Linked DNA regions of Homo sapiens. The protein of the gene in region 1 interacts with the protein of each later gene in a biochemical or structural test. Each region holds a gene or a part of one and is shown on either strand. Other genes may lie near its edges.

Region 1 (3,931 bases):
ATGCAAAAGCCCTTCAGAAATGTGTAATCCTACACACTTCAGTGATTCAATTCATTGTCAAAACTTAAGGTGTTTTTAATATTGTTATTGTTCATTTGGTTTTTACCAACATGTAAGGAGTTGGCAATTATTTGTTAAACTCATGTCTTAGGCTAAATAAATTCCAAAAAATTCAGGATGAGAATTGTTTATTGCTTAACGTGTTTCAAATTTCTTCCATGCACATCTTTATTAGATCTTCACAGCAACCTACAGGATAAGCAAGACAGGTGCAAGTGCCTCCTTTGGGTATGAGGAAACTGAGGTCTAAAGAGATGAAGTGATTTGCCCAAGGCTCATAGCAATTTATTGGTAGAGCAAAGACTAGAATTCAGATCTCTTAACTGCAGCCTATTTTCCCTATTCTGAACTGTTACATCAGCATCAACAATTATCTAATGGATTGGAACAGTGTACACAGGCAGCTTAGCTACGTCAAGTCACGATTTTTACTTTAACTTCAATTCCAGAGTCTTGGCCTGATTTCCCTCAAGACCCTACTTATCTTTGCCTTTGCAAAATTTATTTTTCTTGCATTATCTTTCCAGCTAAATTTTATTTAATAACCATCAGCATGCTTTTTTTGCTTTATGCCATGTAGACTTGACCTGAAAACCTGCCAGGCTTTCATTGAGTTTAGTGATTAAAGAAGTAAAGTTCTGAGAAGCAATTAGTTGATGGGACACCAGTCATAAAATCAATCCAAACTTTTGTTGACATGTGTTTCTTTCTCCATATACCAGGTTCCCGCTTCGTATTAGTAAGATTGAAATTGAAATAAGTCTATTGCTGGTGGATGAATTTGTCACTTTCCTTGAAACTGGTGAACCCAAAAAGTTAGACAGTGATAGGAAAATACTGCCATTGTCTGTTAAGAAGTCTATGACATTTCAAGGCAAGAATGAATATATGGAAGAAGAAACTTGTTTCTTCTTTACTTACAAAAAGGAAAGCCTGGAAGTGAATGATATGGGTATAATTAAAAAAAAAAAAAAAAACAAAAAACCTTTACGTAACGTTTTTGCTGGGAGAGAAGACTACGAAGCACATTTTCCAGGAAGTGTGGGCTGCAACGATTGTGCGCTCTTAACTAATCCTGAGTAAGGTGGCCACTTTGACAGTCTTCTCATGCTGCCTCTGCCACCTTCTCTGCCAGAAGATACCATTTCAACTTTAACACAGCATGATCGAAACATACAACCAAACTTCTCCCCGATCTGCGGCCACTGGACTGCCCATCAGCATGAAAATTTTTATGTATTTACTTACTGTTTTTCTTATCACCCAGATGATTGGGTCAGCACTTTTTGCTGTGTATCTTCATAGAAGGTTGGACAAGGTAAGATGAACCACAAGCCTTTATTAACTAAATTTGGGGTCCTTACTAATTCATAGGTTGGTTCTACCCAAATGATGGATGATGGTAGAAACCAAATAGAAGAATGGTCTTGTGGCATAATGTTTGTTGCCTAGTCAATGAAGTCTCATATTCTTGTCTCTGGTTAGGATCTTGGGATCTGGAGTCAGACTGCCTGGGTTCAAATCTTGGCTCTGCCCATACCATCTCTGTTATCCTGGGGCAAGTGCCTCAGTTTCCACATCTGAGAAATGGGGATGGTATTGGTGTCCATTTCATAGATTAAGTGAGTTTAGCCTTGTAAAAAGCTTAGGAGGGGGTCTGATACATAGTAAGCACTATGTACGCACTAGCTATAATTATTTGCTAAAGTTCTGCTTTAAAAGTAAGCTATTTTTTTATGGAGACAGCTTTTTTCTTTTAAATTTCCAGCTAGGCAAGAAGAGCGTCAATTTGATCTAAAATTTCATAATGCTTCAGATTAACATAGACATGGATAAGTCCCAGAATTTGCAGTCTTTTAGTAAAAGTAGCATTTTCTGTGTAATTCTTCACAAGCACTGATTGTAGTTGCAGGATGCTCAGTCTCCCTCTGAGATGTTTTACATTTTTAAATGGTTAGACTTGCAGGAACAAAAGAGCAGAGTAACTTAGTAGGCTGTTTTGCATTCTTAGGAAAAGAAAACCATCAGGACTTATTTTGTTTTCATGTATTTTTTCACTTCCACTGAGGAGTATAATTGGCTGGTGTTGACAAAATACCAATCATAGATGTAAAGGAGAAAGTTGATTAGTTTTCTGGCTGTTCCTAAAATTCTGGATGCAGGAACTGTGGCTAGAAAGCATCTGGATGATTGCACTTTATCAGGGATACTTGAGTGTCCTCTCTTAGGATCTGGACCTAGAATTAATGTCATGAGATTTTTCTAACAGGATAAGGTGAGGTAGTGAGGGCTGAAGTCATCCACTGGGTTATCCAAATATTAGGTTTCACTGCTGACAAAAGAGGGGGCTTCTGGTCTGGTTGGTTATTTGTGTTTGGCCTGATGTGCTCTGTCAATCAAATGTATGGACATAGGCCTAGCTTCTAAAGGGGCAATAGTGACCTCAGTGGACTGATATTTACCGTACTATTTACATGTGCTCTTAATTACAGCAGAAGCTGCCAGCTAACTGAATCTTGTTTTGAATCTAAAAAATCTACTCTTAAAGCAAGAAAATGGTATAAAATTAGTTGATAATGCAAGTGAATTCTGTACATTTAATTATTCTAAGACATTGGAAAATAAAATATCTTGTTACTTTGAGGATAAAAGATGATTTCTTTAAAAATGCAAATGTTTTCTACAAATACTAAAGTTAAAAGGGAGAGAGATGTAATTAGAACTCGTTAACTGACACATTGCAAATTAACTTCTTTTTATAAAGCACTGCATCACAAACACTAAAATGAAGTGGGCAAATTAGCTCTGCAGAAAACTATTTTCTAGGCTGATGTTTATAATGACCAATCATTACTGAAGCAATGAGAAATGTGACAATTACAGAATATTGCTGCTATAGTATGTTGAAAAAATATGCATTTTGTAGTGAACATTTAGTAGAATAGCTCTGATTTCTACCTGGAGTTTCTGATAACATGACATCTTAATTGCTGTCTTTTATAGATTTTTAAACTGCAAATACAAAATAGCAATCAGCCAATATAATAACTTATTATTCTCCATTTATGCCTGAAAGTCCTCCTCTTGTTGATGCCGTGGAAATGAATGTAGAGGCAGATATCATTAGCTGTATTCTCCTTCCGAATGACATTTATCATATCCTTGTTATTCCAAAATAGATAGAAGATGAAAGGAATCTTCATGAAGATTTTGTATTCATGAAAACGATACAGAGATGCAACACAGGAGAAAGATCCTTATCCTTACTGAACTGTGAGGAGATTAAAAGCCAGTTTGAAGGCTTTGTGAAGGTAAGCAGCTTAATTACTGGTAAAAGTGTCATTGAAATATTTTACTACATTTGCTAGATCGGGAAACTGACAATGCCAATGTTTAAAGATTGGTTATAGACACAGACACACAGACACACACACACATATATATGCATGCAGATATACACACATACATGGGTGTGTGTGTGGGGGTTAAAAAAAAAAAACACAAAGACACTCTCTGGGGAAAATACACCCTTAGGGGCACAGTCACACATATTTGTCAGCTTACATATGCAGCTACCACTAGGCAAAATGATGAAGTCCACCAAGCTTGGTTTTTGCATTGCTGTGTCTCCCCATCCAAACCTTGATGCTCTCGCACTGGGGACCCAGAGTCTGATCCCCATTTCCCAGGGAAGCAATAGCCGTCAACAGCTGCCGTGGCAGCAGGCCACAAGTGAAGGGACACCTGAAGACTGGTAACAGTCTCTGGTGCTTCTCTGATGATGGAATTTTAGGTGTCCTGACAGTGAGATCTTTCCCTTTTACTGGGGAGAGAGGTGCAGGGAATAAGTAATAGACATTCTCAGTGTCGC
Region 2 (3,500 bases), on another chromosome or scaffold:
TCATGAAATTTCACAGTGATTTCTGGGGTGGGAGCAGAAGGAAGGCTGTGTTAAGAATCATCGGGGCTGTGGCCCAGTCAGCCCGCGGAGGTGCAGGCAGGGTGGGCCCTCACTGGGGCAGCTGGAGGAGCACGGACTGCCCCGCTGGCAGGTAGGTGATGTTCCGAGAGCGTGAGAGCTGGTACGCGATGTCCTCTGCAGCTTCCAGCTTGCGCAGCTCGATCAGGCCATCCCCTGCAGTGGCCAGTGAGTTGGCAATCAGCTCAGCTGCCTTGGAGTCGCCCTCAGCAGAGATGATGGCCGCCTTTTTCTGTTGCTCAGCCTAAAAGAATGGAGGTGGAGACAAAGATCAAACCTCAGGGCACCGCATGTCAGGCTACAACCAAAGGCCCTTCACCAGAAAGCCACCTTCCCAGGCTCCTGAAGGAACTCGGGGAGTTTACTTCCTCCTGATGGCTAGCGGGGGAAGCGGGGGGAAGCAGAGCACATTGCCCACCAGTCCTCCCCTATCCTTTCATGCTCACTCCTTGTCACGGGAGGGATACATCTCTGTTGGCTGCAGGAATATTTGTCTTATTTCAAAGTCCTCATTAATATTAATTGCAATCTAGTTTAACAACCCTACTCTGAGCCAGGAGAAGCCAAGGCCAAGGAAAACAGAAGCAAAAGAAAGGTGGAATCAATCCTCAAGGCTCATCTTTTCCTCCAGCCTTAAGTCTAAAGGACTTCATCAAAGCCAGGACAGGGCCGGGTGTGGTGGCTCATGCCTGTAATCCTGGCACTTTGGGAGGCGGAGGCAGGAGGATCACTTGAGCCCAGGAGGCCAAGGCTGCAGTGAGCTATGATCATGCCATTGCACTCCAGCCTGGGCCACAGAGCTGTCACAAACAAACAAACAAACAAACAAACAAACAAAAAACCTCGGGATGGCTAAGGAAGAGCAGCATGCACTTTTGACTGTTCCTAGAGCTGCCTGTGAGTTAGGCTGGTTCCTGACCAGAATCCAGGCACCCAGAGTGAGATCTCCTAGGCTTGCCCTACCAATATCAATAGGAAGACAGCTCTCTGCAACGTGTGACCTTCAGGAGTGTGAGGAAGAAGACAGTATTAAGCCTCCCTGAAATTACATACAATTTTGAAATGACTGGGCCCTGCGTCTATTTGCTCAACAAACATTTACTGTATACCTACTATCACCAGGCACTGTACTAGACTTATTATAATCTCTGAAGTTATGGCAGATACAAAGCAACACAAGTCTCTGCCCACACAGTGTTTTCATTCTCCAAAATTAAATCTATCCCTCTTTTCCCATTTTATTTCTTGCTGTCCCCATCTCCCCACCAATTAGGGATACTGGTGGTGGGAAGAAGGGGACAACAATAAATGAACATGTCTTTGCAAATACCAGAAAGACCAGGCTGCTACGCAAATACACTGTGTCCCATCACATTCTTTGACACATCTGGATGGATTTAGCACTAGAAAAAAATCTAGTGACGAAAGCACATCTGGTGCAACGTTTGATCTTTTTTGCTGTCAGCTTTCACTATGTAACTATGGTTAAAAATGACTTCTCAGTGAAGCTGAAAATACTCCAGGAGAAACATTTTTATTTGTAAGAGAGTGTTTTTGATCTCAGAGAAGTGGAAGAAAAATTACCCTTCAGTGATTTAGGAACATAACTCCACATATCCTTGACTAGCCCCTGAAGACTCTGGAACCAATTGCAGAAGTACAATTCCTTCAAGCCCCTTCTGATTATCCCGGAAGAAGGGATGACAGATGATGAATTTCCAGGCCACCCAGCAAATGGGGAAGCTGAGTGCCGGAGAAAGGGGAGAGAGAGGCTCCTGCCATCTGGTCGAAGGCTCACCTTTTCCACCACAAATCTGGCCCTCTCTGCTTCCTGCTGAGCCACCTGTTTGGCTTCCACCGCTTCTGTGAACTCCTTCCCGAAGGTCAGATGTGTCTAAGGGGAGAGAGTGAGCACAAGATGAGGCAGTGTGATTGCTTCGACAGCACTGCTGGGAGGGCTCCATGGCCGCTGGAAGAAGAGGCCAGCAATGGCTCTAGCAGCTGGAGGCATCCGTGAGGCCAGAACACTCTTCCACCTCCGTATCTGTATCCAAACTGAGTTTACACCCAGACTCTCTGGCTGCCCAAACTGCTCCTGTATATTACTCTGTCACTCTCAGTACAGTGACCTCATGTAGCAAATGGCACCGGGGGCTTTTGATGGGGCCCACAGGCACCAGAAGGTATCTACTCAATCGACCACCTCCCCAGAGGAGGAGAACTGTGGGTTCTAAGACCCCCGCCACTGACTAGTGCTCTTCCAAGGGCCTTTGATGCCTTGTTCAAAGCCCAAGGAAGGCCAGATGGAAAACAGGGTCCCTGAGAGTGAGGGAGGCAGCTGGTTCCCAGGGATCCAAGAGCCTGATGCTCTCTGTTTATGGATTAACCAGTCCGCGTCTTCCCACAGCAGCTCCACCACTGAACAGGAAGAGGACGAGGGACGGTGGAACGCAAATCATGGTATTCCCAATGTGAATGGTTCTGTTAAACGGTTTAAAAGAAAGAGAAAGCAGGTAAAGTCATTGGTCGGCATGAGGGTTTAGAAGTCTGATGATCCATAGACCTTCCCTAATCATGTCAGGTCTGACGGGACTGTCCCTAAAGATAGCACAAACAATGGGAAGGGACCTCAGAATTCCTAATGCCCAGCCTAGAGCAATTTACTTATTCATCCTAATTTTTATTGAAAAAGAATCAAGAGAAGAGCATTGGTTTTGCCATCAAATTCTAGTTGTTTCATTTCCTCCACTCTCCCAACCTCTGCTTTTTAAAAAAGCAGCTCCAAACTTCTCCTGAAGAGTAAATCCTGGTCTCATTCTCTTCCAGAATTTTTAACCTCCTAACTCTAACTGCAGCTGTTGTACTTCGCCTGATCCATTTCTAGTTTCTTAGTCAAAGTTTGGGTAAGAAAATCTGATCCTGAGACATGAAAAATGAAATGTATAATTAAGGAATAAAATTTATTTCTACAAGGGCCAGCTGAGGGCAGCAAATTCCCCATGAAACCTAATTTTCTTCTCACACCTTAGATAGGGTTTCTTGTGGTCAGCCCACATTTCCCCAGAATGGAGTATGTGGTTAAAGTCTAGTAAAATGCCAACTTTTCCCTTAGGTTTTTACTCAGCGTTTTCTCACAGCCAAGGTGTTCAGGTTAACGGTAATTACGAGGGAAGGGCCCACAGAATGGCTGCAGCCTGGCCTCTTGCCAGCAGAGGGAGCCCCAAGCCCCCAGGACTTCCAGCAGGCGGAGCAAGGTGGAGCAGTGCCCAGGGGTTAGCACTGGGTGTTGTCAAGTGGCTGTTTAAACAGCTGCACAGATGCCGGGGGAGGCAGTGCCTTTCCCTAGCAATGCACGGGAGAACTGAACAGGAAACACTTTACCTCACTGCCCGAACAAATCACTCCAAATGGTTTTTCCCAGA

The links.
Region 2: the proteins of CD40LG (region 1) and PHB1 form a complex in vitro, tested with the Homo sapiens proteins (one study listed by BioGRID).

What each region holds. Positions count from the first base shown.
Region 1 is NC_000023.11:136,647,027-136,650,957, forward strand, and holds the start of CD40LG (CD40 ligand), read left to right. Parts: upstream 1-1,131; 5' UTR 1,132-1,222; coding exon 1,223-1,378; intron 1,379-3,239; coding exon 3,240-3,371; intron 3,372-3,931. UniProt on the Homo sapiens protein: Cytokine that acts as a ligand to CD40/TNFRSF5. Costimulates T-cell proliferation and cytokine production.
Region 2 is NC_000017.11:49,404,883-49,408,382, forward strand, and holds part of PHB1 (prohibitin 1), read right to left. Parts: intron 1,973-3,500; coding exon 1,877-1,972; intron 323-1,876; coding exon 110-322; 3' UTR 1-109.